2 separate regions of the Homo sapiens genome follow, and region 1 is linked to region 2. Evidence: fine-mapped expression QTL. A gene starts in region 2. The other region holds a variant in brackets. All regions are shown on one strand. Distances are from middle to middle.

Evidence for each region. PIP is the estimated chance that this variant, and not a neighbour inherited with it, causes the effect.
Region 1: its variant is the best candidate, but not a certain one, in a credible set for the expression of SOX30 in prefrontal cortex (BrainSeq, PIP 0.52).

Annotation. Positions count from the first base shown.
Region 1 is chr5:157,673,860-157,676,765 of GRCh38, reverse strand. C5orf52 (chromosome 5 open reading frame 52) reads right to left here. Exons shown (of 3, transcript NM_001145132.2): 2 at 1,566-1,674. Among named protein-coding and RNA genes, the nearest start is that of C5orf52, 3.8 kb to the right of the region's middle. The variant C/T (reference allele first, on the strand shown) is at 1,711.
Region 2 is chr5:157,651,331-157,654,218 of GRCh38, reverse strand. It overlaps SOX30 (SRY-box transcription factor 30), which reads left to right and starts at 1,781. Exons shown (of 5, transcript NM_178424.2): 1 at 1,781-2,888. The coding sequence starts at 2,141. LOC105377675 (a long non-coding RNA gene) reads right to left here and starts at 2,413. Exons shown (of 3, transcript XR_941127.3): 1 at 1,887-2,413. RefSeq lists an enhancer at 1,844-2,138.

The DNA.
Region 1 (2,906 bases), 23 kb before region 2:
CGACTCTGCCCTATCCATCCTTGATTATGTAAACCCAACTTCTCTATCTTGCTCGAACTAGTTCAAGTTCAGTTTATGTTACCTGCAACTGAGAGGATCTTAATAGATCCTATTTTACAAATGAGAAAGCAGAGTCTGGAGGAAGTGTAATTCACACAGGGTCACACAAAGCTGGCTTGCCCATCTATTTCCACTACACCACACCCATGGAAGTGTAGCAGAAAGAGAAATGCCCGGGTCCCTACTCTTCTTTTGGTGTTTGTGACCTTCAAGAGGATCTGGCACCATCTCTTAAGGATCTCCAATTGTTTTTAATGTTAGAATTTTGTGGGCCCATCCAGACTTGACCCTGGAACATGGAAGGAAGCTCAAAAGAGTCAAGAAGCAGGCAGCAGCTGTGCGTGGTGGCTCACTCCTGTAATCCCAGCACTTTGGGAGTCTGAGGTGGGTGGATCACCTGAGGTCAGGAGTTTGAGACCAGCCTGGCCAACATGGTGAAACCCCGTCTCTACTAATAAAACAAAAATTAGACGGGCGTAGTGGTGCATGCCTGTAATTCCAGCTACTTGGGAGGGTGAGGCAGGAGAATTGCTTAACCCGGGAGGTAGAGGTTGCAGTGAGTTGAGATAGCGCCACTGCACTCCAGCCTGGACAACAGGAATGAAATTCTGTCTCAAAAAAGAAAAGAAGGTGGCAGCAGCTCAACCCTGGGCACCCTGCTCTGCTTGAAAGAATGAGTGTGTTTCTGGAGTCCATCTTGTTCACTTGTCTCTTCCTAGCGCCCAACACAGTACCTGTCCCAAGCAGGCCCTAAGGACAGGTTTAATGAATCCATCAATCAGGGTCTATGGGAACAGTGGGGTGACAGCACTCAGGATTTCGAGTAAGCAGGTGAAACTCTACCTGTCCATAGCAAAAAGTGGGAGAAGAGCCTCAGCTCTCATCTGGAAAATGGGGATAATCCCCAAAGGAAAAAATTGACAAGATGGTGTTGAGGCCCATTCAAACTCTAGGACCCAAGACTTTGGTTTTCTGTTTTTTTGTTTGTTTGTTTTTTGAGATGGAGTCTTGCTCTGTTGCCACACACCTGGCTGCCACCACACCTGGCTAATTTTTGTATTTTTAGTAGAGACAGGATTTCACCATATTGGCCAGGCTGGTCTCGAATTCCTGACCTCAAGTGATCCTCCTGCCTCAGCCTCCCAAAGTGCTGGGATTAGAGGTATGAGCCACTGCGTGTGGCCTAGGACCCAAGACTTTGTATGGGAGAAAATAAGAATCCATTCATGGATTCCCTAAATAGAGAGATAATGTGCTTTCAGAAAAAAAGACCCAAGAGACATGGAGTCTTTCTCTCTGGCTCCCTTAGCCCAGGAACAGGTGCGACACCTTGCGCAAGTCAGTAACCCCGAGTATCAATTGCCTCCTCTGTAAAATGGGGCCTGCCTTAGAGCACCTTGATGACTCCCTATCACCTCTATGATATCCCAGCATATAGGGAGAATGAAATGAATATGGGTCAAGCCACTAACACCCTCTAATGCAAAAGCTTGTGGCTACTTTACCTCCATCTCATAGATTCGTTGTGTGATGCGGTTATCATGAATAATCACCCGAGATAAATGGCTCTTGGGTAAAGTTTTTTTCATCGCTGCTTCACTGGAATTCATTAAGCTGGAGCAGGGAGGGAAAGGTGGCACAGGTTACAGA[C/T]GGTTGGGGCCTGGGCCAGAGCACATTTGATGGGGTCCTGAGGGAGTGGCTGAGGCTTCCCCGGGTTTCTTGGGACAAGTGCAGCTCTGTCATAATTTTCAAAAGAACAGGGGAGTAACCACAGTTTCTTGTTGTGGAAAAGGTATGCTAAAGGGGTATTTCATGGTTACCCAGAAGAAAAGCCATTCTGAGGATGTAAAATGGCCTAGTGCAGTCCTTAAGAGAAGGGTTATCAGGAACTCAGAACCATCCTCAGAAGCAGTCACCCTTTTTGTGTTTTTTGTTTTTTTGAGGCGGAGTTTCACTCTGTCTCCCAGGCTGGAGTGTGGTGGTGCAATCTTGGCTTACTGCAAACTCCACCTCCAGTTCAAGCAATTCTCCTGCCTCGGCCTCCTGAGTAGCTGGCACTACAGGCACTCGCCACCATGCCTGGCTAATTTTTGTACTTTTAGTAGAGACGGGGTTTCACCATGTTGGACAGGCTGGGTTCAAACTCCTGACCTCAAGAGATACACCCACCTCAGCCTCCCAAAGTGCTGGGATTACAGGCAAGTGCCACCACGCCCACCCAGCCAAAAGCAGTCATCTTGATGATCCTTCTTAAGGATGAAATGGTGAGAGGAGTCTTAGAGGAGAGGAGTAAAGTTGTAGGGTAGGATTCAGAAGGATGAATCTGGGAGGTGTTTAGCTTGGGGGGCACTTGCTCTAGAGCATATGCTTCAAGGGGATCTGGGAGGTGGGGGGTTGGGGGAGTATAAATCAGAGCAGGGAGAAATGCAAATGAAAAGCTTGGACAGGTGTTAGGCTGGTTAACAGGGAAATTCTGGAAGAAAGTTTGGGGAGTTTAGAAAAGTGAAGGAGGTATGGGGTGGCTAGGGGTTTTAGGAGACTCTGAAAGGTGAGAGGTGAAAGATGGGGTGGGGTGGGGTAGAATGGAGCCAAGTACTCCAGGTGAAAATACAACAATTTGGTCAAAATGAGAAAATGGTGAAAAGTGGATACACTTACAGGCACTGAGTTTTCACTTTTTGATAATTTGGTTACACCACGAAGTAGTCTTATGAACATATATCTTTAAATGGTTTTGTCCATTTAAAAATAATTGTTCAGGACCGGGCAAGTTGGCTCACGCCTGTAGTCCCAGCACTTTGGGAGGCTGAAGCAGGCGAATCACTTGGAAGTCAGGAGTTCCAGAA
Region 2 (2,888 bases):
TCCACATGAACAAAAGCTTTTTTGGGATCTTCAATAGTTTTTTTTTTTTTTTTTGAGACAGGGTCTTGCTCTGTTGCCCAGGCTGGAGTGCAGTGGCACGATCTCGGCTCCTGCAACCTCTGCCTCCCAGGTTCAAGCGATTCTCCTGCCTCAGCCTCCCGAGTAGCTGGAATTACAGGCATGTGCCACCATGCCCAACTAATTTTTTATTTTTAGTAGAGACGAGGTTCCACCATGTTGGCCAGGCTGGTCTCGAACTCCTGACCTCAAGTGATCCGCCTGCCTCAGCCTCCCAAAGTGCTGGGATTACAGGAGTGAGCCACCACGCCCAGCCCAGGATCTTCAATAGTTTTTATGGGTATAATGAGTTCTTGAGATAAAAGTTTGAAAACCATTGCCCTTGTCTATCTGCCAGGTATAAGAACTCCTACTGACCACATTTGTTACCAGAGGATTGGACAATAAATTGGAGTGGTCTTTGAGTGATAACTTGTCTTGATTGCAAAAATCATCTACGTCAAGATAAACTATAGTTTTTGGCCAGAATGTCATTTAGAAATGCAGCAAATGTTAATACAGGATTTCTTTTTGTTTTTCTTGGTGATGTTTAATGGAAATAAACACAATCCTACTAAAAGGAGAAACATAAACATGGAAAGGATTTGGAACAGTGTCTAGCATAAGAGTAAGCCCTTAACACAGGTAGTGATTATTACTATTTTATTATTACCCTATCACAGTCGCTATTCATTTATTTATTCAACAAGTATTTATTGAGTACTATATGCCAGGCTCAATGGTCTGCATTGTGGATTCAGTGATGGGCAAAACACAAACTGTTCTGCCTTCAAGGACTTTATAGTCTAAAGTGGGAGAGGCAGTGGAATCATCACATGAAAATTCTAATTACAAATTGTGGTAAGCAAACCAAGTGATAGAGGTATAAGTAGACCAAGATTTTATCTGATTTTCAGAGTCAGTAAAAGCTTCTCTGAAGAAGTCCCAGTTGAGCTGCAATATGAAAAATGTGCAGGAGGAATTAAGGAGACACAAAGGAAAGAGTAGCATGCTGAGCATGTTTAAACACCCTGCAGTAGAAAGAGAATGATGATGGGGCCAATGTGGCTGAAACCCAAAGACTCAATAACTATTTAATGGCAAAAACCACAATTACTTTTGCACCAATCTAATAGTAGCAGTAGTAGGAGGTTAGATCCCAAGCCACTGGGGGATTTTTAAGGCTTTGCTAAGAATTTTAGACTTTCATTACATTATCAGTGGGGAGCCATGGAAAGTTTAGGAAAAGTGTGACAACCTTAGATTTGCGTTTTCGAAAGATCACTGGCAGCTGGAGTGTAGTGGGGCAAGGGTGACAAGCAGGGAGACTATTTACAGGGTTACGGCAGTATCCCAGTGAAAGATGCTGGGAGCCTGGAACAGGATAATGGCAGGTAGAGACACAAAACAGTGGATGAATTTGGGATGTATAGTATTTTGGAAGTAGGGCCACAGGGCCTGGTGATTAATTGAAACTTTAGCACAATAATCACACAAAGTCGAAGATCCTCCCCAGCAACATTAGCTAATAGGTTATTGATAAGTTGCAAAATCTTCCCCATTCTCCCTTGGCAAAGATTCAAAAGCCCTGGTGGTACTCAGGGCCGACAGATTACTCAGGCCGCACAGAGCGCGTGCACAAGGCCGTCGCTCCCCTTGTGACGCAAGACTTCATTCCCTGGATGTCAGCGGCCTGGAAGCGCAACGTTTCCTGGGCAACGCCATTGTCGCAGCTCCGGGTGGGGGAGGGATGACTAAAGACAACGGCTGTAAGAGAACTCCACAAGAGAGTCAGAACGAAAATGTGCAACAAGTGCGGCGGCTCCTACCATGGCAGGTGATTCGAGGACTCAGCACGAGGCGAGAGTAGGGACCAGGAAGAGCCGGAAAACCCGCCTGTGATTGGCCGTCCACGGGTATCGGTCGTTGTGATTGGGTGAGGCCCAGACAGACAGCTGCGTTTTGAACCGCGTAGGGTTCTGGGTAGCAAAGGCCTTGCAAGGCTCTTAACCGAAAGGGGGAGGGGGAAGGTCGCCAACAAACGGCTGAGCTCACAATCCTGGCCGGGGCGTCCCCCTCCCCCATGGAGAGAGCCAGACCCGAGCCGCCGCCTCAGCCGCGCCCGTTGCGTCCCGCTCCGCCCCCGCTGCCGGTCGAGGGCACCTCCTTTTGGGCAGCAGCCATGGAGCCCCCTCCGTCGTCTCCCACACTGAGCGCGGCAGCCAGTGCGACCTTGGCCTCGTCGTGCGGGGAGGCAGTGGCGTCCGGCTTACAGCCCGCGGTGCGGCGGCTGCTGCAGGTGAAGCCAGAGCAGGTGTTGCTGCTACCACAGCCTCAGGCCCAGAACGAGGAAGCCGCTGCCTCGTCCGCGCAGGCGCGGCTGTTGCAGTTCAGGCCCGACCTGCGGCTCCTGCAGCCGCCGACAGCGTCAGACGGCGCCACCTCCAGGCCCGAGTTGCACCCGGTGCAGCCCCTGGCGCTGCATGTCAAGGCCAAGAAGCAGAAGCTGGGGCCCAGCCTGGATCAGTCAGTGGGGCCTCGAGGGGCCGTCGAAACCGGTCCTAGAGCCTCCAGGGTGGTCAAGTTGGAAGGCCCCGGGCCGGCCCTCGGCTACTTCCGAGGGGACGAGAAGGGCAAGCTGGAGGCGGAGGAGGTCATGAGAGACTCGATGCAAGGCGGGGCAGGCAAAAGCCCGGCAGCCATCCGAGAAGGTGTGATCAAAACGGAGGAACCCGAGAGACTCCTCGAGGACTGCAGGCTCGGCGCGGAGCCCGCGTCCAATGGCCTGGTTCATGGCAGCGCGGAGGTCATCTTGGCCCCAACGTCCGGTG